4 linked regions of the Homo sapiens genome follow. The protein of the gene in region 4 purifies or fractionates together with the protein of the main gene of each other region. This does not show direct contact. Each region holds a gene or a part of one and is shown on either strand. Other genes may lie near its edges. The genes, in order: SHQ1, H2AZ1, WDCP and RUVBL1.

Evidence for each region.
Region 1: the proteins of RUVBL1 (region 4) and SHQ1 purify together in Homo sapiens (affinity purification with mass spectrometry; 4 studies listed by BioGRID and IntAct, with this or other methods). This does not show direct contact.
Region 2: the proteins of RUVBL1 (region 4) and H2AZ1 purify together in Homo sapiens (affinity purification with mass spectrometry; 6 studies listed by BioGRID and IntAct, with this or other methods). This does not show direct contact.
Region 3: the proteins of RUVBL1 (region 4) and WDCP purify together in Homo sapiens (affinity purification with mass spectrometry; 7 studies listed by BioGRID and IntAct, with this or other methods). This does not show direct contact.

The regions. Positions count from the first base shown.
Region 1 is NC_000003.12:72,845,427-72,852,400, forward strand, and holds the start of SHQ1 (protein SHQ1 homolog), read right to left. Parts: upstream 3,020-6,974; 5' UTR 2,915-3,019; coding exon 2,772-2,914; intron 1-2,771. UniProt on the Homo sapiens protein: Required for the quantitative accumulation of H/ACA ribonucleoproteins (RNPs), including telomerase, probably through the stabilization of DKC1, from the time of its synthesis until its association with NOP10, NHP2, and NAF1 at the nascent H/ACA RNA.
Region 2 is NC_000004.12:99,947,564-99,954,911, reverse strand, and holds H2AZ1 (histone H2A.Z), read left to right. Parts: upstream 1-4,636; 5' UTR 4,637-4,741; coding exon 4,742-4,744; intron 4,745-5,171; coding exon 5,172-5,249; intron 5,250-5,525; coding exon 5,526-5,639; intron 5,640-5,971; coding exon 5,972-6,101; intron 6,102-6,388; coding exon 6,389-6,450; 3' UTR 6,451-6,824; downstream 6,825-7,348. UniProt on the Homo sapiens protein: Variant histone H2A which replaces conventional H2A in a subset of nucleosomes. Nucleosomes wrap and compact DNA into chromatin, limiting DNA accessibility to the cellular machineries which require DNA as a template.
Region 3 is NC_000002.12:24,030,367-24,037,392, reverse strand, and holds part of WDCP (WD repeat and coiled-coil-containing protein), read left to right. Parts: intron 1-4,135; exon of another isoform or gene 4,136-4,187; intron 4,188-4,446; coding exon 4,447-4,564; intron 4,565-6,230; coding exon 6,231-6,460; 3' UTR 6,461-7,026.
Region 4 is NC_000003.12:128,113,807-128,120,832, reverse strand, and holds part of RUVBL1 (ruvB-like 1), read left to right. Parts: intron 1-1,418; coding exon 1,419-1,505; intron 1,506-7,026. UniProt on the Homo sapiens protein: Possesses single-stranded DNA-stimulated ATPase and ATP-dependent DNA helicase (3' to 5') activity; hexamerization is thought to be critical for ATP hydrolysis and adjacent subunits in the ring-like structure contribute to the ATPase activity.

The sequences.
Region 1 (6,974 bases), about 55 Mb from region 4:
GAGCCGAGATCATTTGCCACTGCACTCCAGCCTGGGCAACAGAGTGAGATTCTGTGTCCAAAAAAAAAAAAAGAAAAAAGAAATGAAGTGATTTCCCTGCTTCCAGTTTTACCCTAGTTCAATCAGTCTTCCACTGAGGCTCCAAAATAATTTTTCTAAAACAGGAATCTAATTGTCACTTTTCTATTTTAAAAAGTGTCTATGGCTGCCTCATGTTGCCTAGATAATTTAAACTTATCAGAAGGGCATATCAGGCCCACTCCATATCATTCCAAACTTGAAATTTGAGCTTCCTTTCTTCCCATGGCCCTCCCCCTTGTTTCCTACTAAATATGATTAAAAACAAAAACAGCTGACAGTCCCAAAAGGCCCAGGACCTTTAATCCCAAGGTTTCCTCAAGCTTCAATACATTTTCAGAATGAAAATCCCTCTAAGCCAGAATAAGGGGTCAGTTTATGGATGAGTTTGTTATAATGGTTACAAACGCTAACTTTAGTGTCAGAATCTGAATTAACTCCTAGATCTGCCATTTACCAGATGTGTAACAACCTTCTTTGTACAAGTTAATTATTCTTCAAGAATCATAAATCCCTCTTCTGTAAAGGGGGGAAATAACAGTAACTATCCAAGCGTTACTATGAGCATGAAATGATAATGCAAAGAGCTTAGTGGCCGGCACAACAGGTGAGCATTCAGAAAATGTGAGCTATTATTACCAGCTCCCTTCCCCTAAACTCTATAAGCCTAGAGTTAAATTCTTACTGCAGAGAAAATTATATTTGCTTACATGGGGCCTCCGCAGCTACAGTCTCCATTCTTCAAGGAGAGGGACCAGGTTTTATTCATCCTTGGTATAGCAAACTGTATGTTCTTTTTTTTTTTTTTTTTAGACAGTCTCGCTCTGTTACTCAGGCTGGAGTGCGATAGCGCAATCTTGGCTCACTGCAACCTTCGCCCCCCAGGTTCAAGCGATTCTCTCACCTCAAGCTTCCCAAGTAGCTAGGACTACAAGCGCGTGCCATCAAGCCCAGATAATTTTTTTGTATTTTTAGTACAGATGGGGTTTAACCATGTTGGTCAGGCCGGTCTCAAACTCCTGACCTCAAGTGATCTGCCCACCTCGGCATCCCAAAGTGCTGGGATTACAGGAGTGAGCCACCACATCTGGGGGCAAACTGTATTATCAAAGAATGCCCATCTCACAGCACTCTTCCCAACCATGAAGGTCTATGTTCCCTCCCCTTAAAATTCAGCAGGCTCTGGGACTGTTTTGATGAATACAATAAAGCAGAAGTGACACAGGAATTAGACCTTTAACATATGAATTTGGGGACAAGAGTTGGGGGGGTGCCCACAAATAATCCATCCACGGCAACGGGTAAATAATAAAGCCTCGTTGTAACACTGTCCTAATAACAAATGAGATAATCCGTATAAAGCACTAACCTGGAGTAAAAATTCAATAAATATTTGCTACCACCATAATCTTCTTCCTATTCTTCACATCTTGGCTTAAATATCGCCTCCCCAGAAAGGCTTTTCCTGACCACTTTATAAAACATGGGCCCTTTTTCATTCTCTATTAGTGCACTTCTTTCTCCTCATAGCACTCACCACAATTAAGTACACTGTTTATTGTTTTCCTCTCCCCAGTGAAAAGTACATGAGGGCAGGACTTTGTCTTGTTCAGCACAATAATACCAACACTGAAACTCAATAAATAAATTAAAGAAATAAGTGAATTAAAAAACTGGAAAGTGCAATAATTCAAATACGGACGTTATATGGTCTAAGGGAAATCTGAGCAAAACTGGTTCAGCAACAGTGAAAAAACCACCTTGACTGGTGGAGAAGGTTTGTACCACAAAAGTACTTGGGTGGGAAAAGTAGGATGCAGCTACACTTCAGAAAGATTAGGAGGATGGATAAAGAGAAGGACAAGAGATTGGCAATACTTTAGGATGAATATGTAGCAGCGGGTTCTGTGGAATGGGGTTAATAGCAGTGCTTATCCCTAAGGATCACCGTCAAAGTTAAATGAGATACACCATCATAAAGCACTTAACGGAACTGCTTGTCCACCACACTACGAGTTATCAGTGTTAGCTGCTACCAAGGTTACGATTCTGCAAGGAGAATAATTTAAACAGATCAAGTGCTGACAGACCCTCACGGAGACTTGGGGGAAACAACCACACTTCAGGGACAAAACCAAACAGAAGAGCAGCAGACAGCAGGGAAGCAGGAGAACTAGGCTAATTTGGTGTCAAGAGGTCCAAAAAAGGTAAGAATTTCGGTAAGTAGGGAGCGGACAGACAAGAGATAGATCAACAGAAGGCGGCCTGGGCAAAGTTAAAAGGACCGACGGGTTGGGAAGTCACGGAGATGTCAGCGCGCGCCGTTCCCAGGAAGGGAGAGACTGGGAGAGCAAACGCGGAGTGAAAGGAAAGAACAGAACAAGTCAGAACGGGACGAGAACTAGGGCGACAGGGCAGAAACGGGAAAGTGACACGGTCCAAACGTCACTTTTTCAAGTGATTCCGCAATCCTTTGATATGGGATTTAAGAAAGCTCAAGAAGGAAAAGGGCTTCCGCAGCATCTAAAACGCACCCCTGGAAGAGGGCAGTTCCCTGGCACCAAGAGAAGCTGCGGAAACGTCGGGAAAAGGCATTCGCGCAATCGAGCACTGCTCTCTCGACCTTGCATTCTCCCTCTAAAGCAGCTATCTAACGAATGCGCCTTTCCTGCGGCCAGGCACCCCGAACTCGCCTGAGAAAGTATGGCTTGGCGTAGAACTTGAAGTCAGACCCCTCGAAGTAGACGTCGAACTCGGAGACCCGGGCGTAGGGCACGCGGATGGCGATAGTCAGGAAGTCCGGATCCTGGCTGAGGTCGAACGCCGGGGTCAGCATCGCCGCACCGGACGCAAGGGCCGGCGCCGCTCGCTCTCACTGCCGCCGCGTTCCCGCCACGCAAACTCTCCAACTCCCCACGCGCAGGAACTCTCGGTGTGAGGGACGGAGCTTCCGGCTCGAGGCGGAAGTGCTCGCGCGTAAGGCAGGAAGTCTCTCCCCACGCCAATCTCCATGGAGACGGGACGCCGTTCGAGAAGAGGCGGAACTTTCAAAACCCCCGGGCGGAGAAAGGGCGTGGCGAGTGGTGCCTGGGAGCCGGCGTTGAACCGGCGGGATGACTAGCAACCGAGCCTTTTTCGAGGTTCTTAGAGATGATTTTAACAGCACTGGCTTGACAGGTAAACAGACGTGCGTTTGAATCCCTTCCTGGCCACAACTTCTCAGCTGTAAGACCTTGGGAAAGTTACAAAACCTCTCTATATCTTCTGTAAAACGCGGATAATGCGAGAACCTAGCCCCATAGAAATGCTGTGAGGGTAGCATGAAATTGTGCATGTAGAACTCTAATAACGAACTTGGCAAGTTGTCAACGCTTGATGTGCTGAAGTAGTCACCGCAGTAGCCACAGCAGCACCGTTACAGTGGTTTCCCTTAGTTCTCACCTGCCTTGTGAACAATTCCTCTTACACTTTCCCTTTCCTCCCTCTCTCTTTCCACTTCTCTTTTTCTGCAGCTTTCTCTCTCATTCTTAACGGCTTATTTGAAGAGTTTTCTCTTTAACAGAGCGTCCGTCCCGCTAATCTCATCTAATCTACGCTGCAAACTCTAAAGAAAACGGCTCAGAGAGGTTAATCAGTACGTTTTATAACCATGCATTTTACAGTAATTAGAACTCAGAACGTTTGACTCTTAAACCGTGTCGGTGACTGCATTCACAAATTAAGGTCCCTCTGTATTCCCCTTCTTTCCTTTTTCTCACTCTTGTCCTTACACTTGTCTGAGGACATCTTTTCTGTCTTTTTTTCTACTTGTCTTCCTTGTATTTTCTCCCTTTGGAGTGTGCCCCTTACACTCTCTCAGTGCCTCTCCCGCTGGTTTCCCTCTTCCCCCACATATTCCCTTGGCCTTTCCACACATGTTGTTTCCTGTTATTCCACCACTAATTAGAATAATCCAGTTGTGGTATTTATTCCGTGGTTTTAAGTATCAGTGGAAAAGGGATGAAAAGTACTCTCCTAGGACAGTGGAGATAACCAGAAAACTTCAAAAGTCTTTTCAATCTCCAGCTGTTTTATGATTCTAAGGAGACATTCTTGAAACTTCATTAGGACTCAGAAAAAAAATTAATAGTAACAGGGGCTAACATTAACTGAATATTTACTATGTGCCAGCACTGCAGCAAACCCTTTGTAATGATCTCATTCTCCCTCCTGACCGCTCTATGAAGTAGGCATTATATATTCCCTTGGCTTGCACAGGATCTCACAGCTAGTAAGTGGTGCAATGGGAATTGAAACCCAGGTGAGTCTGATTCCTAGGCCCAGGCTCTACACTATTACAGAGTTGACTCCCTCTGTTATTACCACCTACTTTGTTTCACATTCTAAAGCCAAGCCTGCCTGCTTTAGACCATACTGAGCCTTACAAGTAATAGGCACTCAATATTGACAATGAATTGATGCCAACTTTGATTTAATAAAGCTCTCAAAAGGTCCCTTGAGATAGGCCTGTGACTAAACTATTCCAAATTAGCTTCTTTACAAAGAATCTTGGCCGGGAGCGGTGGCTCACACCTGTAATCCCACCACTTTGGGAGGCCGAGGGGGTGGATCACCTGAGGTCAGGAGTTCGAGACTAGCCTGGCCAAGATGGTGAAACTCCGTCTCTACTAAAAATACAAAAATTAGCCAGGCATGGTGGTGTGTGCCTATAATCCCAGCTACTCAGGAGGCTGAGGCAGGAGAATCCCTTGAACCCAGGAGGCGGAAGTTGCAGTAAGCCGAGATTGTGCCATTTCACTCCAGCCTGGGTGACAAGAGTGAAACTCCATCTCAAAAAAAAAAAAAAGAAATAATCTTTACATCTGCCATGGGACCTCATTCCTGTAGGTCACAAGCATTAATATTTTTAAATTATTAATGCCAGAGAATCAACTGAAACAAGCTATGCTATCCATGAGGAAATTCTAATTGAAAGCACTTTGCAAACTAGAGCTGTGCATTTCCTGGGTACTTTATTATGTGTCTGGCAACACACACACACACAGGACTGCAACACAGGAAAACAGACAACATGGTTCAGTGCTGCCGTCATTATAAGAAATATATACTGCATCTGCTAAATCACAAAATACGGATAGTTTCAAGTATATAACAAGGTTTTGTTGTTTTGGGTTTCTGTTGGTTTTTGTTTTCTTGCAGGCAATAGTTCTCTTATTTTTGCATTTCTATTAGTGGTAAATATAAGTTATAGATTCATTCTCACTTAAGAACATAAAGTTCCTTTTGGCTGCCATGCAACTTTGGTTCTTTCTCCTGCTTCCTCAAAGGCAGTCCTAGCTATCACTTCAGACCCTTTTCTATTTCTACATCCATTTCTATGGACCCTGTTGCTTTGTGTTTAGACCCACTTTATATGGGCACATTCTCACACTATGAAAGTAATTCTGCAACATGCTTTTTTTCCTACTTTGGTTCATTTTTGAGACATAGCTATATTGATTCATAGATCAAATTGAGTTTCTATTTCTGAATACAGACATTGCTTGAGAATAAAGACATTATTTTAATGTTTTAAATTAGCTCTGGTTTAGAGGGGAAAACAGGAATGCAATTTTTCATCATTTTTGAGCATTCAAATGTTGCAGTGTTTTTTATCTTTTCATTTTCTGAAAGCTTACTTTTGAATGGCCTTCCACTGTTTTAAAAATAGTTTTTCCTTCTGGCCTATAGAGAACATGAAATAAAATAATAAGATAAAGTTTTTTCCATGACCAACTTATGTAGGACAAGTGTGTAACCTATCATCTTTCATTATATTAAATTGGCCCCTCCTCTGGTCTAACAACCCTGATTGTGATCCATAAGCTTCCAAATTAAATGTTAAATTAAAAATGGTTTTTATAAACAATTCCAATGTCAGCTTTATTACCAAGTTCTATTGTTAGAAGTCTTTTAATGGTGAAATACTCCTTGTTTCCAGAAGGTGGCATGCATATAGGTGATTAAAACAATGTTATCTCAAAGAATGGAGCTTTAACCTATGTTGAAAAATAGCTTCCTGAATAAGTTGTTTATAGCGCTAGTTCATTCTCTGAGCCATTTTGGGGAGGTGGTGGAATCTTACACAGTATTTGCAAACTACGTCTTAACCACTGTTATTATTTTGGCATACATCTTTTCAGACTCCTATTCATAAAAGTATGGGAAGTATTTTCAACAAAAGAATGTCATAATCTATATTTGCTTTCTTCACTTAATATAGGATTACAGGCTGGGCACGGTCGCCCATGCCTGTAATCCCAGCACTTTGGGAGGCCTAGGCGGGTGGATCACTTGAGGTCAAGAATTTGAGACTGCTGTGGCCAACATGGGAAAACTTTGTTTCTACTAAAAATACAAAAAAATTAGCCAGGTGTGGTGGCACCACCTGTAATCCCAGCTACTCGGAAGGCTGTGAGGCAAAAGAATCCTTTGAACCTGGGAGGTGGAGGTTGCAGTGAGCTGAGATTGCACCATTGCACTCCAGCCTGGGTGACAGAGCAAGACTCCATATCTCTCTCTCTCTCTCTCTCTCTCTCTCTCTCTCTCTCTCTCTCTCTCTCTATATATATATATATATATATATATATATATATATATATAATATATAAAATACATATGTGGCATTACAATATTTCCATTTGACTACATTTTTGTCAAGAATAAGTTTATCCACAATTGTACTCTTTGTTTTTTTGTTGTTTTTTTTTTCAGAGACAGGGTCTTGTGCTGTTTCCCAGGTTGGAGTGCAGTGGCAGGATCATAGCTCACTGCAGCCTCAACCTCCTAGGCTCAAGCAATCCTCCCACCTCAGCCTCCCAAATAGCTAGGACTACAGGTATGTTTCACCACACGCA
Region 2 (7,348 bases), on a different chromosome or scaffold from region 4:
CTATGTGGTTTAGGAAATTACAGGAAAAAATGTCTGTATATGTTTAGTACAGATGCAACCATACTTTTTAAAATTAGAAAGTCAGGGCCTTGCTTTATTACCCAGGCTGGAGTGCAGTGGTGTGATCATGGCTTACTGCAGCCTTGAACTTCTAGGCTCAAGGGATCCTCCTGCCTCAGGCTCCCTAGTAGCTGGGAGTACAGGTGTGTACCACCATGCCCGGCTAATTGAAAAAAAAAATTTTTAGAGACAGGGCCTTGCTATGTTGCCCAGGCTGGTCTTGAATTTCTGGCTTCATGGGATCCTTTTACCTCAGCCTCCCAAATTGTTGGGATTACAGGGATGAACTGCCACACCCCAAATGCAGCTTATTATTATTATTTTTTCTTGAGACCAAGTCTCACTCTGTCACTCAGGCTGGAGTGCAGTGGCATGATCTCTGCTCACTTCAGCCTCTGCCTCCCAAGTTCATGCGATTCTCCTGCCTCAGCCTCCTGAGAAGCTGGGATTACAGGTGCATGCCACCACACATGGCTAATTTCTGTAGTTTTATTAGAGACAGGGTTTCACCATGTTGGCCAGGTTGGTCTCAAACTCCTGGCCTCAAGTGATCCACCCGCCTCAGCCTCCCAAAGTGATGGGATTATAGGTGTGAGCCACGGCGCCTGGCCACACCCAGCTTACGTTGTGAATATTTTTGATCCTCAGTTGGTTGAATCCATAGATGTAGAACACAGGAATACAGAGAAGGAGGACCCACTGCCTAGGCAAATACACTATTATTTAGGAAAAAAATTTCAACACATGGACTCCCTTCCCCTGCCCTGAAAATCCTAAAGATCGATATTGATATCAATAATAGATAATAAAAGGATATGATAAGAATCTTGATTTTTTAATTTTAAAACAATAAATTTCCAAAAATTCTGAGGACTAATGTATGGAAAAAGTAAATTAGTGCTATATTAAAAGCATGATCTTTTGTTTTCCTGAAATGGCAGTGGATCTGGGTGGAGTAGATTCTGCTGATCTTTGTCATCTATTCCCTGCATTTGTGAATTGTTACCTGTGTGCAATCTGTGATCATGAGAAGTGCAAAGCTGGGCAATTTGGAATTTAAATCGATGGCTTTGGTTTTATCAACACTGAATTAAACACATAGGCTTCTCAACCTAAACAGAATTCAGGAAGGACTATGGCCTCGGTGCCAAAAATATTATTACATCACTCTACATATTCTTCGCACTTAACGAAACTCTTTCACAATTCTATCAAGTTGGTTTATCTGGTGTTACGAATCCCTATTTAATAAATGAAACTGTGCCTCAGTGTTTTACATACTTCAGGCCATATAGCAAGTAAGTGGCTACCCAAACTCAACCCTCATTCTTTTACTCTAGTTCAATATTTTGCATAATACCACACTGGAACTCAGTTATTCACAGCTGTGTGAATCCTTGAAGGCACATATTTTTCCTAGGTGCCCTAGGTAGAGAGAACCAAGATTCTAATGTAGATTTCCTGATGAAAAGAATTTTGCCGCCATTATCGATCTAGGCTAATATCCTTGGAAATAACTTGAGAACTTATTCATATTTTCTTAAAAATACGTTTTTAAGGCAAGATGTAGTTGAGAAATTTATAATTCCCAATTGTAAGACTCTCAAATTCTCTACATAAAAAGACAAGAACAATAGTAGTTAACATACATGCTAGTGTTTCAAAGGAGATAGCAACTAGTCATGGAAAATCTGGCTTAGTTAGGAAAAGGCTATTAAGGAAAGTGTCAATAATAGTGGGTTCGCCTACCTCATCTGAGGATTTTTTGTTGTTTTTTCGAGACAGGATCTCAGTTTATCACACAGGCTGGAATTCAGTGGCACAATCATGGCTCACTGCAACCATGGGCTCAAGTGGTCCTTCCACCTCAGCCTCCCGAGTAGATGGGACCACAGGCAGGGGCCACCATGCCTTGCTAATTTTTGTATTTTTAGTAGAGATGGGGTCTCGCTATGTTGCCCAGCCTGGTCTTTAACACCTGGGCTGAAGTGATCCTCTTGCCTTGGCATCTCATATTTTTTTATGGTGAGAGAACTAATTGGGTATGGCATTAAACAAAAGTAATTACATAGCTCTGGCTAAGTACATTATATACATGCATTACTATTAACACAGGAACTGGAAAGATAAACCAACAATATTAACATATTTGCATCATACCTTTTCTGGGGGGGGCAGGAAAAAGAGTAGGAAATCATCATACCACTCTGAGAAAAGTGCAGAAAGTAATACTGTCCTGTTCTCTGAAGGAAAATTATTGAGTTATTAAACCAATTTTGGATTTTAGTTTGGATGTTGGAAGACTTGGTTGTGTATACTTTGGGCAGGTTTCAAGCTTGCTGCTTCCAAATCGAAGAAAGAAAATAAACCAAATAGCAAAAAAGATTTAGAAATAAAAGATACTTTATTTCATCCCTCTCCAGCATCCAATGTAGAAAATAATAGCAGTTATTTACTGAGGGCTAACTACGTGCCAAACACATGCTACTATGTACATTGCATACCTTTTTCCTTAATCTTTCAACCATGTGAAAATAGATGATACTATCTTTTCACAGAATAGGAACTCGAAGCTCAGAAAGATTAGTAACTAAGATGACACAGTGAGGAGGAGGCAGAACAGAATCCATCTGTACTTGCTTCTGAGTTCATCCTCCTAACCACTATTCAGCGAGGCAACAGTAAATTCCCTTTATGGGGCTTCATAGCAAAGAGCTGGCAGAGTATTATCTAAACTAGAGATGGCATTAATGTTGGTTTTTTATATATCACAAAGCTTCCCTGGAGCCATCGTTAACTATCAGGTTTCATAGCTTAATATATCATTATTATATTATCAGTAGGAAAACGGCTGAAGTCTTGCTATCGACGACATCATAAGAGTTCCTTGGTTCCAAGAAATAATAAACCTCAATGTCAAAATTGTTGGGAAGCTCTTCTCTAGAATTTATCTCACAGAAATTGGGAGGTCCTCTAATTCGATAAAATCTTTCAAATTGAAACCCAATCTAAAGTACTTCAGAGTATATGTTTGTTGTTGTTGTTGTTGAGAAAGTCTCGCTCTGTTCCCCAGGCTGAGTGCAGTGGCGCAATCTTGACTCACCACAACCGCCGCCTCCCGGGTTCAAGCAATTCTCCTGCCTCAGCCTCCAGAGTAGCTGGGATTACAGGCGGGCGCCACCATGCCTGGCTAATTTTTGTATTTTTAGTAGAGATGGGGTGTCACCATGTTGGCCAGGCTGGTCTTGAACTCCTGACCTCGTAATCTGCCCGCTTCGGCCTCCCAAAGTGCTGGGATTACAGGTGTGAGCCACCATGCCCAGCATAGAGTATATGTTTCAAAATGTTCGTCACATTGAAACTATTCAATTATGTTAAAAAATGTAATACACTAAAACACTGCAAATGAGATTGAGACACTACTGTCCCCAAGCAGCTGGAGATGTACATAGGTGTTAATAACCTACTAGTTGGAAGGATAGTACTGTGTGTACAGTACCATTACTTTAACCTCATCATTTGCAACTGATTGCATTGCATGGACCCTCTAACTGCCTGAAAATCATGTCAGAGTTACTCCATCGACATTTGCCGAACATTTGTCATGTGGCAAAATACTTACTGTAGAAAAGTTGACACATAATAGCTCTGAGGTTTCACTAAATGAGCTTTACACACCAGGCTACAGGTACAACCCATTGATGTGTAGTCTCCAAAAAATATGGTTTATGATTTGATTAAAGAATACTGCCTCGCCAGAAGCTCCCTAAGTATAGACAAAAAGGGTTTCGTGACCAGTGAGGTGACTTGGCTTCACCGTTTGCTGTCACAGAACTATTCCGTGGAGGATTTCATAAGTAGTGAGGGAGAGGTGGAAGACCCGGCTGAAAATAAAGTGGGAGCAGCGGGTCGTGATCTGTTGGTGGCTGGGGACTCGCCTAGACGGAAGAAACACGGAATCTCTACTAAGGCTGTGGAAGGCGTCAGGGCAAACCTCAGACTCCTCTCACTGGACGCGTTCGCGCCACCTGTCAGACGGGAGGAGCCGCCAGGGATTGAGAGGGTAGGGAAGGGGTGTCCGGGGCCCCGGAAAGCGGCTGCGGGTCGCAGGTCTCCGCCCGAGAGGCGCTGGGAATGGGGCTGGGAGTGGTGGGGGCGGCGTGCTACATACCGAGGAGACTTCACGTGGTCTCTAGAGCCCTGCTAGGGGACCCGGGACGCTACCGCGCGCCCCTCCCCTGAGGTCTCAGCTCCTCCTCCCAGGCACGTGATCGCAGCCGGCTGGTAACTGCGCTCCTGCAGCGTAGCTCGCTCTGTTTCTTCCCTCCCGCCGCGGTGCCCTTCTTCTCCCCCGTTCCCATCCCTCCGCCTTCCCCCGCCTCTCCCCCCACGCCCCAATCGCGGCTTGAGATTAGAAGCGCCCGCCCCTCCACCCTTTTCTTCGCTTGCTCATTGGCTGAAGTCTCAAGGACGCGTCCCGAGGGCGGGTGGCAGCCATTGGTGGGATGAGCAATCCGAGTTCCCGGATGAGGGAACATTCTGCAGTATAAAGGGAGCAGGGAAGGCGGGAGACAGCGCAGTTTGAATCGCGGTGCGACGAAGGAGTAGGTGGTGGGATCTCACCGTGGGTCCGATTAGCCTTTTCTCTGCCTTGCTTGCTTGAGCTTCAGCGGAATTCGAAATGGTAAACTTCGCAGAGACGCTCGATGACTCCGCGGGTTTTTGCCGGCGAGAGAAAAACCCGTTACACAGAGGGATGGGGGTGAAGTGGCGACGGTTGGGAACGCGCGGAGACAGGATTTAGAAGAGTGGGGGGAGGTGTTTTGTCGGCTGCTAGCGGAGCAGCCTCGGATCTCGCGGCGGGCGGCGACGGTTGGGTGGCGCGCGCAGCGCCGCTGGGGGCCGGCGGGCGGAGGCGCGCGGCCGTGGCGAGCGCGCGGCGGGGGGCGAACGGGCGGGGTCGCCCCTGCGGCGCGCCGCGGGCCGGAGACCCCGGCAGGGTGCGGGGACGCGCTCGCGGCGGGACGCGCCGCGGTGGGGGATGGGCGCGCCGCCTTGGTAATTCTATATTCTCCGTTCCTCCTCCGCTCGCGGGCGTGTGCGCGCCGCAGGCTGGCGGTAAGGCTGGAAAGGACTCCGGAAAGGCCAAGACAAAGGCGGTTTCCCGCTCGCAGAGAGCCGGCTTGCAGGTCAGTAGTTGTTCGTGCAGTCTGGGAGTCATGATGTTTTTCTTTGCATTTCCTTTTTTGTTATTCATCGCTCTCGATGGGCGTTTTGTGTATGCGTGGGTGATGCGGTGTCGCGACTTGGGCTGCCCATACGATAAATATGGGGGGGAGGAATCACGTGTTTCGATGTCGGGACGCGTTGCTGCGCCCGTGCCCCTTGCTTTGGCGCGCATATAATTTCCCCATCTCTAGTTCTCATTTTTGTGCATTTATGTTTGTGTATGCTTAAAATTTAAGTTCCCAGTGGGCCGTATTCATCGACACCTAAAATCTAGGACGACCAGTCATGGACGTGTGGGCGCGACTGCCGCTGTGTACAGCGCAGCCATCCTGGAGTACCTCACCGCAGAGGTAAATGGGTGAACGCCTATAATCCGGAGAAGGTTTGGGGGGCGGGGAGGCGGCAAGAGGGAAGGAGGAAAGTGATGCAAGAAAACTCCCAGGCCCTGAACGCGGCGAGAGGCCTAAGAGAACGCTAGAGGGAGCTGGTGTTCAACAAGGATCCTACTGAGCTTGAGTTCTCTGCTCTTGGAATTAAAATTGCGTGCCCCCTGTATATCTTGCCAGTCAGATAGTGAGGAACGATTCCAGTTGGTAGATCTGCGTTTGTGAGGGTTTTATTCTGTTCTCTGAATCTTGGCCAAAGGAAAGTTGGAAGGCAACTGACAGATTCTGCCTTTTAGGTACTTGAACTGGCAGGAAATGCATCAAAAGACTTAAAGGTAAAGCGTATTACCCCTCGTCACTTGCAACTTGCTATTCGTGGAGATGAAGAATTGGATTCTCTCATCAAGGCTACAATTGCTGGTGGTGGTATGTTAACTTCTAACATTTTAAAAAATTTCTTCAGAGGAAGGAATTTTTTGCTGCTTTTAATTAGTTTTTCCAGGAGAGGAAATTTAAGTATATTTTCAATGATGGAAGTATGGTTGTATCATGAAATTTGATTTATATGTATAACTCAATGAATTTTTACTTCATACTTGAGCTGCATGTTTTTAAAGATACCTTTCAAGTTGAACAGTATACACTTTCTTGGTTTCAAATACTGTGATTTTTTAAAAAATCTTAAGTAGAATTAATTCCTGTCACTCTCCTAGGTGTCATTCCACACATCCACAAATCTCTGATTGGGAAGAAAGGACAACAGAAGACTGTCTAAAGGATGCCTGGATTCCTTGTTATCTCAGGACTCTAAATACTCTAACAGCTGTCCAGTGTTGGTGATTCCAGTGGACTGTATCTCTGTGAAAAACACAATTTTGCCTTTTTGTAATTCTATTTGAGCAAGTTGGAAGTTTAATTAGCTTTCCAACCAACCAAATTTCTGCATTCGAGTCTTAACCATATTTAAGTGTTACTGTGGCTTCAAAGAAGCTATTGATTCTGAAGTAGTGGGTTTTGATTGAGTTGACTGTTTTTAAAAAACTGTTTGGATTTTAATTGTGATGCAGAAGTTATAGTAACAAACATTTGGTTTTGTACAGACATTATTTCCACTCTGGTGGATAAGTTCAATAAAGGTCATATCCCAAACTAGTTGTGTATTAAATTTGCTTGGTTGTAATAGGAACTTGTTTTGAGTATCTCATCTAGCAGCAATAACTAAGCACATTTCTTTGTGACTGAACTGTCAAATCTGTAGATCAACAAAGTGAGATAGCCCAAGTATATTTTTTTAATGTTATATGAGCTACTAAAGTTTTAATTTAAAAAGTTGGCAGGAGCTGGAGTGGGATTGTCAGTTTCTTAGGCTAAGTGTGACCATTTCAGTTTGTACATTGGCTTCGCTTGCTGTGTGACAGCACTGCACTAGTATGCTGTTAGCATGGTGGACTTGGGGAGGGAGAGAATAGGTAGGAATGTCCTGTATATCCACAGAATGAACTCCGAATTTAAACTTTAAAGATAATAGTGCTACGTGCCAGGCCCTGCTTTGAAGTCTGAAGTTGTTAAGTACTCAGTAACATCATTGGGGATATACTATCTCCATTTTATCGAAGAGAAGCAGGGTTTCTTATTTGAAAGTACCGAGTTATGGTAGTTAGCAGAATTAACAG
Region 3 (7,026 bases), on a different chromosome or scaffold from region 4:
TGTTATTTCATTGTGACAACCTTTTCCTTATATAATAGAGATACTCCTCCAGTTATAAAAAAGGTTATGTTGCTGGGCTCCATGGCTCACGCCTGTAATCCTAGCACTTTGGGAGGCCGAGGCAAGTGGATCACCTGAGGTCAGGAGTTCGAGACCAGCCTGGCCAATGTGGTGAAACCCTGTCTCTAACAAAAATATAAAAATTAGCTGGGCATGGTGATGGGCGCCTGTAATCCCAGCTACTTGGGAAAGCAGGAGTATCACTTGAGCCCGGGAGGCACAGGTTTCAGTGAGCCGAGACTGTGCCACTGCACTCCAGCCTGGGCAACAGGGCGAGACTCCGTCTCAAAGAAAAAGGAAAAGGTTATGTTCATTTAAAATGTTTTGATGCATTTCTTTATGCATGCATGTCCAAACATTATATAAGTGGGATCATATTATACATGTTTTTATCATGGACACTTTCCTCCTATATAAAATATGGCCTTGCCCCATCTTCCCCTTAATCCGCTGTAACCAGCAGCTTAACATGGATCCTTTCGTGACTTTCTCCATGGTCACATGATCTAACACAGGTCTTTGTGTACATAGATATATAGGTATGTGGGAATGGTTTGTCATTGTTTTTACAAAAATAGGGTGATATGGTGCACTCTTTACTTCATACTGAGAGTATGCTCTTTATTTAGCCATTCCCTTGTTGATTGACATTCACTTTGTTTTTAGTTTTTAGCTACTCCAAATGATGCTGCAGTAGTACTCTTATATGTATCCATTCATATTAGTACCTTTATTTCTGTTGGATTGGTTCCCAGAAGTAGAAATGCAAATTTGAAGAGTATATGTGTTTCTACTTTTAATTGAGTTACCAGATTGCCTCTCAAAGATTTTTACTTAACAGTGCATCATCACACGCCCGCCAGCTATGTATAAGGCTGTCCTTTTCCTCGTATGTCACCAATCTGATCAGTGACCCTCCTGCTTCAGCCTCCTGAGCAGCTGAGACTACAAGCACATGCCACCACACTTGGCTAATTTTTTTTTTTTTTAGCAGAGACAGGATCTTGCTATGTTGCCTAGGCTGATCATGACCTCCTGGGCTCAAGTGATAGTCTTGCCTCAGCCTCCCAAAGTGCTGGGATTACAGGTGTGTGCCACTGCATGTGGCCCCAACCCTACATTTTTTTAAAGAGGATTTTTGCCACATTAACTACATGGAGTTTTCAGTAGTAGAGTTTTAATTTTTTTTTTTAAGTCACAGCTTTGCTGTGAGGAGCATTTTATTTTATTTATTTATTTATTTATTTATTTATTTATTTATTTATTTTTGAGACGGAGTCTCTGTCACCAGGCTGGAGTGCAGTGGCGCGATCTCAGCTCGCTGCAACCTCCAACTCCCAGGTTCTAGCAATTCTCCTGCCTCAGCCTCCCAAGTAGCTGGGATTACAGGCACGTGCCACCACACCTGGCTAATTTTTGTATTCTTAGTAGAGGCGGGGTTTCACCGTGTTGGCCAGGATGAGCTCAATCTCCTGACCTTGTGATCTGCCCGCCTTGGCCTCCCAGAGTGCTGAGATTACACGTGTAAGCCACTGCGCCCGGCCTAATTTTTTTTTAATTAAAAAAAATTTTTTTTTAACTATAGAGACAAGGTCTTGCTATGTTGCCCAGGCTTGTTTGGAAGTCCTGGGCTCAAGCAGTCCTCCTGCTTCAGCCTCCCAAAGCGCTGGGATTACAGGTGTGAGCCACTGCACCCAGCCATAGTTTTGATTTTTTTAAAATTATTTTATTTATAAATGTGATAACTGGTTTGGATTTCTTTCCTACTATGACTTTTTAAAGAGTTTGTTTTCTTTTTCTTCTGTCTTTTTTTAATAGGTAATTCATTTATTTGGTTTAAAAAGCAAAACTGTATTTTAATAAAAACTGTATACCAAGAACTCTTATTCCTACCCTATGTTTCTTCAGCCTGTTCTCCTTTCCTCCTTTAGGTAACCATTTTTATTTTTATTTCTTTATGCAGATACTAGCAGACTTTAGTTATGTATTTTTATTTCCCCTTTTGTTACACAAAAGGGAAGGTGATATACACACCTTTTCATTTTCCATTTAATAGTATGTCCTAGAGAGCTCTTTATATCAGCACACAGAGCTCTTTTTTCATCTTTTTTTCCACAGCTGCATAGTATTTTTTTTTCCTAATTACAAAAGTAATATATACTTGTTGAGGAAAAAAATTTTACCATTACAGAAAGTAAAAATTTTCCATAATCCAACCTTTAGAGAAAATCACAGATATAGCTAAATATTTTATTAGATGTTAGATGTAAATATTTCCATATTTTTTCTGTACATTTATCTAATCCAAAAAAAATCTAATATAAAAATATATTATTTTTAAAATTTTCTTTAAATAGGCTATTTTACTTGCAAACAATAATATATCTTTCTGTTTTTAAAACACTTATAAATGTAAAATTTTATATTTTTAAAAACTAAGGTTAAAACAACCATGTTTGGCCAGGCACAGTGGCTTAAACCTGTAACCCCAGAACTTTGGGAGGCCGAGATGGGTAGATCACTTGAGTCCAGGAGTTCGAGACCAGCCTGGGCAGCATGGCAAAACCCTGTCTCTACCGAAAAATACAAAAATTAGCCAGCCGTGATGGCACCCACCTGTTTTCCCAGCTACTTGGGAGGCTGAGGTGTGAGGATCACCTAAGCTGAGGAGGTTGAGGCTGCAGTGAGCTGTGATCGTGCCACTGCACGCCAGCCTGGGAAACAGAGCAAGACTCTGTCTCAAAAAAAAAAAAAAAAAGTTTTGTTGCCCTTTCAATTCCTCAGTTTTTTAGTTTATAATTATGTCATCCAACCAAGCTGTTGTCAGTAGTTATCTCTGGAGGATAGAATTTTGGGGGCTTTACTGTCTGCATTATATATTTCTGTTATATTTTTATTTTATTTATTTATTTTTAGATAGAGCTTTGCTTTGTCACCCAGGCCGGAGTGCAGTGGCGCGATCTTGGCTCACTGCAACCTCCGCCTCCTGGGTTCAAGCGATTCTCTGCCTCAGCCACCCAGGTAGTTGGGATTACAGGTGTGCACCACCACACCCAGCTAATTTTTGTATTTATAGTAGAGATGGGGTTTCACCATGTTGGCCAGGCTGGTCTCGAACTCCTGACCTCAAGTGATCCACCCGCCTTGGCCTTCCAAAGTTCTGGGATTACAGGCGTGAGCCACCACACCCGGCCCTATTATACTTTTAAAAAATTGATCATTTATTCCTTTTGTAATGAGAAAAGTAAAAGTTACACAATAATCAAAAGCAAGAAATAGTTTCCCCTGTAATTTCAGAAATTACATTTCATAAGACGTGAAATAAATGATTAGTTGGTTTTGACTTTTACAGTTTATTCCTGTGACTTCATTTAAAAATATTAGTGGACATATTCTTTGAGTGGTTCATCCTACCACAGTGATGTATAGTTTTATTTTCTTTTTATGAGATGGGGTCTTGCCATGTTGCCCAGGCTGCTCTCCAATACCTGGGCTCAAGCAATCCATGCACTCTGGCCTCCCAAAGTGCTTAACAACAAAATAAGTTAGACACATAACTTATACAACTGTCCTTCATTTATTTATTTATTTAGAGATGGAGTCTGTCTCTGTCACTCAGCCTGGAGTACAGTGGCACCTTCTCAGCTCACTGCAACCTTTGCCTCCTGGGTTCAAGTGATTCTCCTACCTCAGCCTCCCGAGTAGCTGGGACTACAAGTGTGTACCACCATGCCTGGCTAACTTTTTTATTTTTTGTAAAGACAGGGTTTTGCCATATTGCCCAGGCTGGTCTTGAACTCCTGGGCTCAAGTGATCTGTCCATCTTAGCCTCCCAAACTTTTGGTACTAAGGGGTGAGCCACTGTGCCCAGCCAATTTTTAATGACTTTAAAATTTACAAATCATTTATTTTTATTTGTGCTTTTTCTAAGCTATGTGAATTTTGACCATGGTTTGTTTATTTTATGCAAATCCTCTGCTACTCTACCACTTAGGACACTCTCTCGGCATTTTTTTTCCTAATAAACCATGAGGTGTCTTAGCTATATCTGAAACAGCCAAGAAGGTGTTCTTACCGTCAGATTGTGTCTCTCAGGCTGCTGTCCATCATCCTTTTAGTGTTATTAGTTGTATTCTAGGAGAGCCAGTTCCTAGTGATGAAGAACCCTGAGGAAAGAGTAGAACAAAAGGAAAAATAAGGCTGTTTTGTTCGGATTTTTTAGTTGTGTTAAATAATGCAGCAAAGAGCTCCTTAAAACTGAAGTCCAGTTGATTAGTGGTAATAGATAAGAATTTTTTAAAAAACTATTTACACATTCCTTTCTTAAGAAATGTTAACTCGATTACTTCTGCAATCAGTTTAACAACTTTTATTTTTTATTTGCAGAAACCTTATTATCTAGGTCCTGTTGTTGAAAAAAGAGCGGTGCTTCTCTGTGATGGTAAACTAAGGCTCAGTACAGTTCAGCAGACTTTTGGCCTTTCTCTCATTGAAATGCTACATGGTAGGTCGTGCTCAGAAATTGACCCTAGCTAACATCCTTGCCTCCCCCACCATCTGTTTTAACTATGCCGGTAATGAAAATGAGGGATACCAACCATTCAGTAATTCACTGGATAGTTAACAAGTAATCTATTATTATTATTATTATTGAGACAGGGTCTTGCTCTGTTGCCCAGGCCAGAGTGCCTCGGTGTGATCATAGCTCACTGCAGCCTCGAACTCCTGAGCTCAAGCAATCCTCCCATCTCAGACTCCCAACTAGTGAGAACTATAGGTGTTCACTACCATGCCCAGCCAAGTTTTGTTTGTTTGTTTGTTTGTTTTTTGGAGATGGAGTCTTGCTCTGCCACCCGGTCCTGGAGTACAGTGGCGCAGTCTCAGCTCACTGCAACCTCCGCCTCCCGGGTTCAAGCAATTCTCCTGTCTCAGCCTCCTGAGTAGCTGGGACTACAGGCGCACGCTGCCATGCCTGGCTAATTTTTTGTATTTTCGTAGAGACGGGTTTCACTGTGTTGCCCAGGCTGAGCTCAGGCAATCCGCCTGCCTCGGCCTCCCAAAGTGCTGGGATTAAAGGCGTGAGCCACTGCACCCAGCCTCAGCCAAGTTTAAAAAAAATGTTTGTAGATAACGGGGTCTCACTCTGTTGCCCAGGCTGGTCTTGAACTCCTGACCTCAAGTGATCCGTCCACCTTGGCCTCCCAAAGTGCTATGATTACTGGCATAAGCCACCACACCCAGCCTTAACAAATATTATTAATTGCCTACTATATACCCAGGCCTAGTATAGGTGCCAAAACATATGGAAAATATGCACCCTGCCCTTAGGGAACTTACAGCCTAGCTGGAAAAGTTAAATGTACATATGAAAAAATAAGAAAAGACTTACAAAGCAGTGTATAACAACTGCAAGGAAGTAACAGAAAGCCTCATTTATTTCTGTTGCACTAAAATGTAAAGATCATAGCAGCATTGCAGAATGTTTCTTTCTTTCTTTTTTTTTTTTTGAGACCGAGTCTCACTCTGTCACCCAGGCTGGAATGCAGTGGCATGATCTCGGCTCACTGCAACCTCCGCCTCCTGGGTTCAAGCGATTCTCCTGCCTCAGCCTCCCGAGTAGCTGGGACTACAGGCACATGCCACCACGCCTGGCTAATATTTTGTATTTTTAGTAGAAATGGGGTTTCACCATGTTAGCCAGGATGGTCTCGATCTCCTGACCTCGAGATCTGCCCGCCTCGGCCTCCCAAAGTGGTGGGATTATAGGCGTGAGCCACTGCGCCCGGCCTACAGAATATTTCTTTGAGGAGTTGCCATTCTAATATGGAGTAAACATGGATGTTCAAAGGATATTCCTAAGTGGCAAGGGACTGAGTCATGCCAGATTCATCAGATGTGGAGCATGGTTGTTTTCTTATGCCTCATTCTTGTAACAGTAGCCACCACATTGAACATCAAATATCATTTCATTTTTTCCCCTTTTTCTCCTACCTGACCCTAAGTAATACCCAGTCTTCCCAATACCCCATTCTCTGTAAAATCTTACAAGGATTGAGTTGAATATTATCAACTACTATATTCCTTCACTCAGAAAAAAAAATTTGTAGTCATATGTTTCATCATAAGAATAATATATACTAAATTGCCTGTGTATTTATTTTTATTTGCAGATTCCCACTGGATTCTTCTCTCTGCTGACAGTGAGGGCTTTATCCCGTTAACCTTCACAGCCACACAGGAAATAATCATAAGAGATGGCAGCCTGTCCAGGTCAGATGTCTTCAGAGACTCTTTTTCTCACAGTCCAGGTGCTGTTTCTTCTCTTAAAGTCTTTACAGGCCTTGCTGCCCCCAGTTTAGATACCACTGGCTGTTGTAACCATGTAGATGGCATGGCTTGATATCTGCAGTGTCCTTGCTGTGTAGCTCTTCAGATGAGACCATTACAAACAAGGCCTGCTTGACACTGGACACTCGCCAATGAGACTCCCACTGCACTCAGGCGAAGCGCTTGCCATGGTCGGCTCTCCTGGTTTCCCCCTGTTTCCCCTGAGCTGAGGCTCGCTGCTGTGTAGCAGAGCTCAGTCTTTATTAGATGGCTCCGAAAGTGGTGTTTATGTATTCATGACTGTGTGGTTTTGACTAAGGGCAGAATTCTCAGAACAAAACAATATTATGGTGCCATATGGATGGTGTTTTATGGTTTCTCTGAGGCTTTGTGTCCCTTGTCCAAAGCTGCATTGAAGCTGTCTTAGGAGCACTTAAAAGATACCTTGGCATTGTTATAGGTCTTTTTCTTGGCTTCAAGAGGAGGTTGAGGAGTCTGCTGGGGGGCATGTGCTCTAGCATATTAACCTCAAACCAGCAAGAATTAGCAGAGCTCCAAGGAGGACCAGAGACCCACTGGCTTCTGCTCTCAGGAACAGGAAGTGGCTCTGATGTTGCCTGGACCTCCCAGAATTTAAAC
Region 4 (7,026 bases):
CCGGCTAACATGGTGAAACCCCTTCTCTACTAAAAATACAAGAAATTAGCTAGGCATGGTGGCAGGCGCCTGTAGTCCTTACATATTTTTTGAGGGGCTGCCATAAGTGTGGGACCAAGGTACTTCACAGTCCATGAGGAATAGAGGTAGAAGAGATAAGATGTATTCACAAGACTCTGGCACAGTGTGGTCACTGCCCAGAGAGAAGAGCACCTTTTAGATAGTCACGTATTCAGTTATTAAATCAGTGTAGCAAACCTTATATTATGTAATCCTGAGATATAGATGCTCAGCTAGTGTAACTTTCTCAGTGTTCCCCCCTTATAGTCAAATATTCTAAAATATATGAAGTTCCATAGCCCATTTATGGAATATGTGTGTGTATATATACACACATGTGTACTGCAAATGGTTAATAAAATTCAGAGATTTATAATGTATTTAAAATATACTAACAGATGATAAAGTAATTTAACCTTGAGGATTCAAAACATATTCAATGGATCTAATAGTGCCATAGGTTTAACTTCACATTCAGTATTTACAGTGTTCACTGATGGCCAGCTAGTACTCTATGTCATTGATTCTTACCCCTTAATAGGTTACTCTGGGAATTTGATGAAAGCTATGGATCCTTTCTCTGGAAAAAATGTATATATGAACATAAACACAGTTTCGTTCCCAACTTCAAGAGGTATTTGGGCCCCTGGCGTCTATCCCTGTACCCTGGGCCAAAAATCAGTGTTCCCACTTGTACTCATACTGTGCATTCTTCACACAGTAGTAGCTAGCACCATCTTTTAAAAACAAATCATAGCATGACACATAGTCTTCAAGACCTTTTCAGTGGCTTTGTATTATTTATGTAGAATAAAATCCAAACTTTACCACACACTGTAAGTTCCTGTTCTGCGTTCTGGCCGCTGTCTACCTCTTCAACCTCATCTTCCTGGTCTTTTTCGCTATACTTTGGTCACTGCAACCTTTCTGTCCCTTGGATATGCCAAGCTTGTTTCTGCTTTGGATTTTCTGAATTCGCTGTTTTCTTTGCCTGGAACGCTGACTCCTGCTCCTCCCAGAGGTTCACATATCAAATTAAATGTCATCAGAAAGACACTCCAGGATCACTTTCTAGCCACTCGTTCTCTCTCATCATCCCTTTTTCTTCATAGTAGTGATGAAGATTATGTGTGCAATGTTTGTATGTTTGTATCCCTCCCTAAAACATGAGCTCCACAAGTACAAGGCTTTTCTGCCTTGCCTTCGTTACCCTCGGCACCTAGAACAGTGACTGCAGTGCACTGGCACTCAGTGTTAGTTGGATGAGTGTGTGACTTGTGTAGGCCAGGGACTGAGATTTTTCCCCTTGTGAAACATTTTAATATTGATTTATTATTTCTTTCCATTGTGGTGTGTAGGCATGTGGCGTCATAGTAGAATTAATCAAAAGCAAGAAAATGGCTGGAAGAGCTGTCTTGTTGGCAGGACCTCCTGGAACTGGCAAGGTACTCATTTTCTCTCATTTTTTAAATCTACCCAGGAGAATGATCCTAGTGTCTAAGCCAAATTGAATTCATGTCTTAACTAGTCTTTGTTTAGCTAAATGGGTTATATGTATGTTTTTAAAATTAATATGCAATAATACAATTGGGTATCTAAAATCCCTGCTTCTAAAATTCAAATTATCCTGGCCTACCTCCAGAGAAGAAAGAATGAAGTCCTTGAAGGGGTCTCATTGTCTCTAGAATTTGTCCTTTTTCTCTTTCAAGTCTCCTTTGCTGTGGAAATACATTTCTGTTGGCCTAGGGCTTCATAAAGATCTTCTGAGTGACATCTTACTTGAGGGGACAAAAAAATGAGTCAAGCATTCTTCCAAATGCTAGCTTTACGCATCGCTATTGTGGCTGTGTGGGAGATGAAAAAAAGGAAAACAAGAATTAGAGACATGATTTTTATCTTCAAGGGGCTTACAGTCTCTCCAGGGCAGAAAGAAAGGAAATCATGACAGCACAGGAGGACTCAGTATGAGTGCTCAGCTTTGAGGTATTGACTAATATTAAATGCAGCTGGAATTTAAGGAGGCAGCACTGTGGGCTGGTACAGCTGGAAGGGTTGAGACTTGACATTTTCCCTTCAGAGCTGGGAGAGGATTTGGCTTTGCAGGGAAGATAAGGGCCTTTCAGGCAGAGGACACCGTGTGGCTTCTTGGGATTCGTGAGGGGACTGGCCAGATACTTGAAACTCACCAGAGTTCCCAATTTGAGCTTGCTTATTCTTCAAAAGGGCCGCTTGATGTGGGCAAGTAGGAGCTTGGGGTTGTGTGTGAAAAGAAATGGGCTTTAAATTCCAGCTCTAGTATTGACTTGCTATGAGACCTGAGGCAGGTCCCTTAACTTTTCTAAGCAAAAGCATACTCTACCTATTTCAAGCAATTATTAAACTGATCGATTGTAAGATAATGACTTGCATTATAATTTTGAAATGATTACTGATTGTGTATCTTATATTGGTATCTTACAAGAGGAAGAAGTGCTATATTTGTGAACAGTTTTTTCTCTTCCTATATAAAAGCAAATTGTGAACAGTTTTTTAAACTGTAAAGTGCCATACAGATGTGAGCTTCAGTTACCTCTCTCCAGGCAACATTAGCTTGTCCAGTGCATTTACCATTTATTTGCTTGCTATTCCTTATATCTTAGACCTTCTCTTTCCCTCCATTTTTCTTCTTCCTAAAGTAAATAATTTAGAAATTTCTTCTAGAAGTTTGTTGGTGGGAAAGTCTCTCACGTTTGCATTCATTATGTTGCCCTTGTTTTGAAAAAGAGCTATGTTGGCTATATAATTCAGTTGACAGATATTTTCTTCAGTACTGTTTCACAGTACTTCTCTCTCAATGTTATTTGCTCCTTTGGCTTCTGTTGTTTTTGAGAAGTCTAATTTTGAGGGTTTTGAGTCTTCTTTCTGCATGTTTTTGAGATATTTTTGGGTTTGGTGTTTCACTATTATATGTCAGAGTGGATTAATTTTTGTTTATCATGCTTAATGCTAATTGTGCTTCTTGAATCTGAGTATTATGTCTCTGCTCAATTCTGGAAAATTGTCAGCCTTAGGAGAATCGCTTGAACCTGGGAGGCAGAGGTATCAGTGAGCCAAGATCATGCCATTGCACTCTAGCCTGGGTGACAGAGCAAGACTACGTCTCAAAAAAAAAAAAAACAAAAAAACTGTCAGCGTTAATCTCTTCAGCTATTGCCTTTCCCCATTCTCTTTGTTCTTTCCTTCTGGAACTCCACTGAGATGAGGTTAAGATTGCAGTGGTTTTCAACCTGGGGCAGTTTTGCCCTTGCAGGGGACTTTGACAACGTCTGGAGACATTTTTGGTTCTCACGACTTGGTTGGGGGTGCTACTGGCATCTAGTGGGTGGAGGCCAGGGATGCTACTAAACATCCTGTAGTGCACAGAGCAGTTTCCATAATAAGGAATTATCTGGCCACAAACGTCATGGAGTCAAGCTGAGAAACCCTGGGCTAGAGCTTCTCGTTTTGTCCTCTTTGTCTTTTAGCCTCTCATATTTGTTATCTTTTTGACTCTGCTAAATTATGGGTAATTTCTTTTAGATCTTTGTTCCAGTCTAATTGTCTCTTAAGCTATGATTAAGTGACTGATTAATCCAATCTATTGAATATTTTTTTCCTTTTCATTTTGAAAAGTTTGGAACCTACAAAAAACTTGAAAGAATAGTGTGATGAGCCCCTCTATACCCTATACCTAGATAGCCAGTTATAAATATTTTGTGACATTTGCTTTTTCTCTAGTTTATTTCTGAACCACTTGACAGTAAGTTGTAAGGATGTCTTCCTACATGACCACGGTGCCATCATCAGACCCACCTTGCTAATGCTATTATATTCCCCCAATTTTTGTCAATTAAAAATTAAATTAATTAATTTTTAAAAAATGAGCAGCAGAGCCAGGGAGAGAATGGTGTCTCAGGAACCAAGAAAGGAGAACCTTTAAAGAAAGGAGTAGGTAACCATATCCACTGTGGTAGAGAAATCACAAAGATGAGGGAGCCTGGCAGCTCATCATATGATTCCATGAGCAGTTAACAAATGTGCTTTCAAAGACAACGAAGTTAAATTGTTTTAATGAAAAGAAAATATAGGTGATAGAAATCAGAAAACATCTTTCCAAGTTGTTTCAGTTTTTGGCTTTTTAAAAAACACCAGAATATCAAAATGCAATCAAAGATTACACACTGCATAAATTGTTACAAGTTATAATGTCTTTTTTTTTTTTTTTTGAGATGAAGTCTCGCTCTCTTGCCCAGGGTGGAGTACAGTGGCGTGATCTTGGCTCACTGCAATCTCTGCCTCCCAGGTTCAAACGATTCTCCTGCCTCAGCCTCCTGGGTAGCTGGGATTACAGGTGCCTGGCTAATTTTTGTATTTTTAGTGGAGATGGGGTTTCATCATGTTGGTCAGGCTGGTCTCGAACTCCTGACTTTAGGTGATCCACCTGCCTTGGCTTCCCAAAGTGCTGGGATTACAGGCGTGAGCCACTGTGCCTGGCCCCCAGATGTATTTTGTTATGGCCCACCTTTTTTACTCATGTGTGGCCCTTCAAGAGTCCTCTTTTATGTTTTTTTTTTAATTGTAATGTTTTTGTTTGTTTGTTTGTTTTTTGAGACAGTTTCAGTCTGTCGCCCAGGCTGGAGTGCAGTGGTCTGTTACCCAGGCTGGAGTGCAGTGATCTCGGCTCACTGCAGTCTCTACCTCTTGGGTTCAGGTGGTCCTCCCACCTCAGCCTCCTGAGTAGCTGGGACTACAGGTGCACACCACCACGCTTTGGCTAATTTTTGTAGTTTTCGTAGAGATGGGGTATCGCCATTTTGCCCAGGCTGGTCTTGAACTCCTGGGCTCAAGCAATCCACCTGCCTCGGCCTCCCAAAGTGCTGGGATTGCAGGCTTGAGCCACCGTGCCCAGTCCCGGTTTTATTCAGGGGTTTCTATCTTAAGTGCTATACCTTGCTGAGCTTTCCTGTATCTACAGTCTCTGAACTTTCAAGGCAAATAGTTTACTGCTCTGAATGTTATTATTTATTCAATTCTAGGTGTTTTGTAAGAGGAGAGGTTTTCAGTGGACCCAGTGTGCCATATTGCTAGAAGCATATGTCTTTCATTTTTTTTGGTGATATTGTATTGCTTTCCTCCCAGGAAATATGAGAAGTGCTCAGCACTGTGGTATTACCTTATAAGTTTGTCCACTCCCTTCCAATGTGTATGAAGGAATTTGGTGACTTCTGCTTAATGGTTTGCTGCAGGGTCCCAAAGTTTAGGCAACTTACCTGGGTGACAGGCAGAAATACTGCTTATTTTAGAGATGCAAATGCATGGTTCATATGCATTTCCACTCTTGAGGACCTCACACTGTTAATAATGGGTTTGGGTTTTAGAAGAAGGAGATATTCAGATGAGATTGAAAAATAGAGATTTCTTCAACCTTCTTTTGGCAACAACCTCTTTTTTGTGCCACTTGTCACTCACATGGGGTGAGTACAAAAAAAAATGGCTTTGGAGATTGGGGTTTGCATCCTGGTGCTGCTGCTTGCGGTTTTACCTTGGGTGTGTTGGTAACTTTTGAGTTTGTTTCTTAATCTATAAAATACAAACTAGATGATCAAGGTCATAGGCTAGTTGGGGAGATTCGATGAGGTCTATGCAGCACTCTGTAGTAGGTGTAGGAATAGTAGCCATATCATATACTTTCCCTCTGGAAGTCTTTAAATGGAGGAAACGAGACACACATGAAGCTTTTTTTTTTTAACCAAGTATTTATCATATTTTAATGGAAGTATGTTCATCTCTTCTGTATTAGTTAAAGGGAGGGAGAGTGCCATTGAATTGGATGTGGTCACTGTCTTTGAAGTTCAAAACTGAGGGTAGGGAATTGGGGCTGGCAGAGATACAAGGAAGAGAAAGGAGTAACTGGGAAGGGGTGGTCCTGTCCAGCCTGTGGCCCCACGGGGAGTCTGCTGTTAGAGTGCTGCTCCTCTCATTGTGCCCTTTCATGTTCCAGAGATTTTTTTCCTTTGCTCTTAGAAGAATACCAGTTTTCAAGGTGTCAGCCTTGAGCTCACAAGTGCAGATGCCTAATGAGGCAGGCAACGGGGATGAGGGAAGTGGCTGGGTGCACTGTGGCGTGTCTGCCTTGAGCCCCAGGTGCTCGGCCTTGCTGAAGGTCACCATGAGACTGCAGGCCAAACAGAACCAGGCTGTGAGCAACGAGTTTGCCACTTGTGATCTAGCATGGCACTTTAGTACTTTCATTTGACAGATGAGGAAATCGGGCACCTGAGATTTGCTGAGTGCCCAAGGTCACACTGAAAATTAGTGGCAGAACCAGCACTAATCTTTCTGTTCCTGGCTAGTGCATTTTATACTGTGCTATACACTGATTCTCTACCAGATTTTACTACCTCAAAACTATCACCAAAAGGGCATAGAAAAGAAAATCTGAGAGGAACCTTGACTGTTAATTTTAAGACACCGTCTCAGTTTCACTTTGTTCTTCAGTAACAAGCTTGTTTTCAGTCTTAGCCCATATACCTGGGGAGCTGGCCTTACTCGTGCTCCTGTTTCAGAGTTGAGGAAAGATGAAAATGGCATTTAGAGGCCATGGCATTGCCCAGTTCTGTACCAACTTTAAAGCATTTGCTTGCCATACTTGACATTTGACCGTACACCTGTGAAGTCTGGTTCTGTTTAGCATTTGCCAGCTGTAATTATCTTGTCAAAAATCAATTTGTAGTTTACCACAGGGCGTGTTTAAGTGTAACTTGTTAAGACCAACTCATAGCTTCAAAATCCTACTTGAGGTATCCTTCTTCACTCTTTGTGGGCTACATAACATAAAATGAACAATCCATTCATTCATTCCTTCATTATTTCTGATGGGTTGTAGATTGGTGTTTTCCTGTATTTGTAAAAAGAGAAAGCAGGTATCTCAAAGATCCAGTGGTGTAT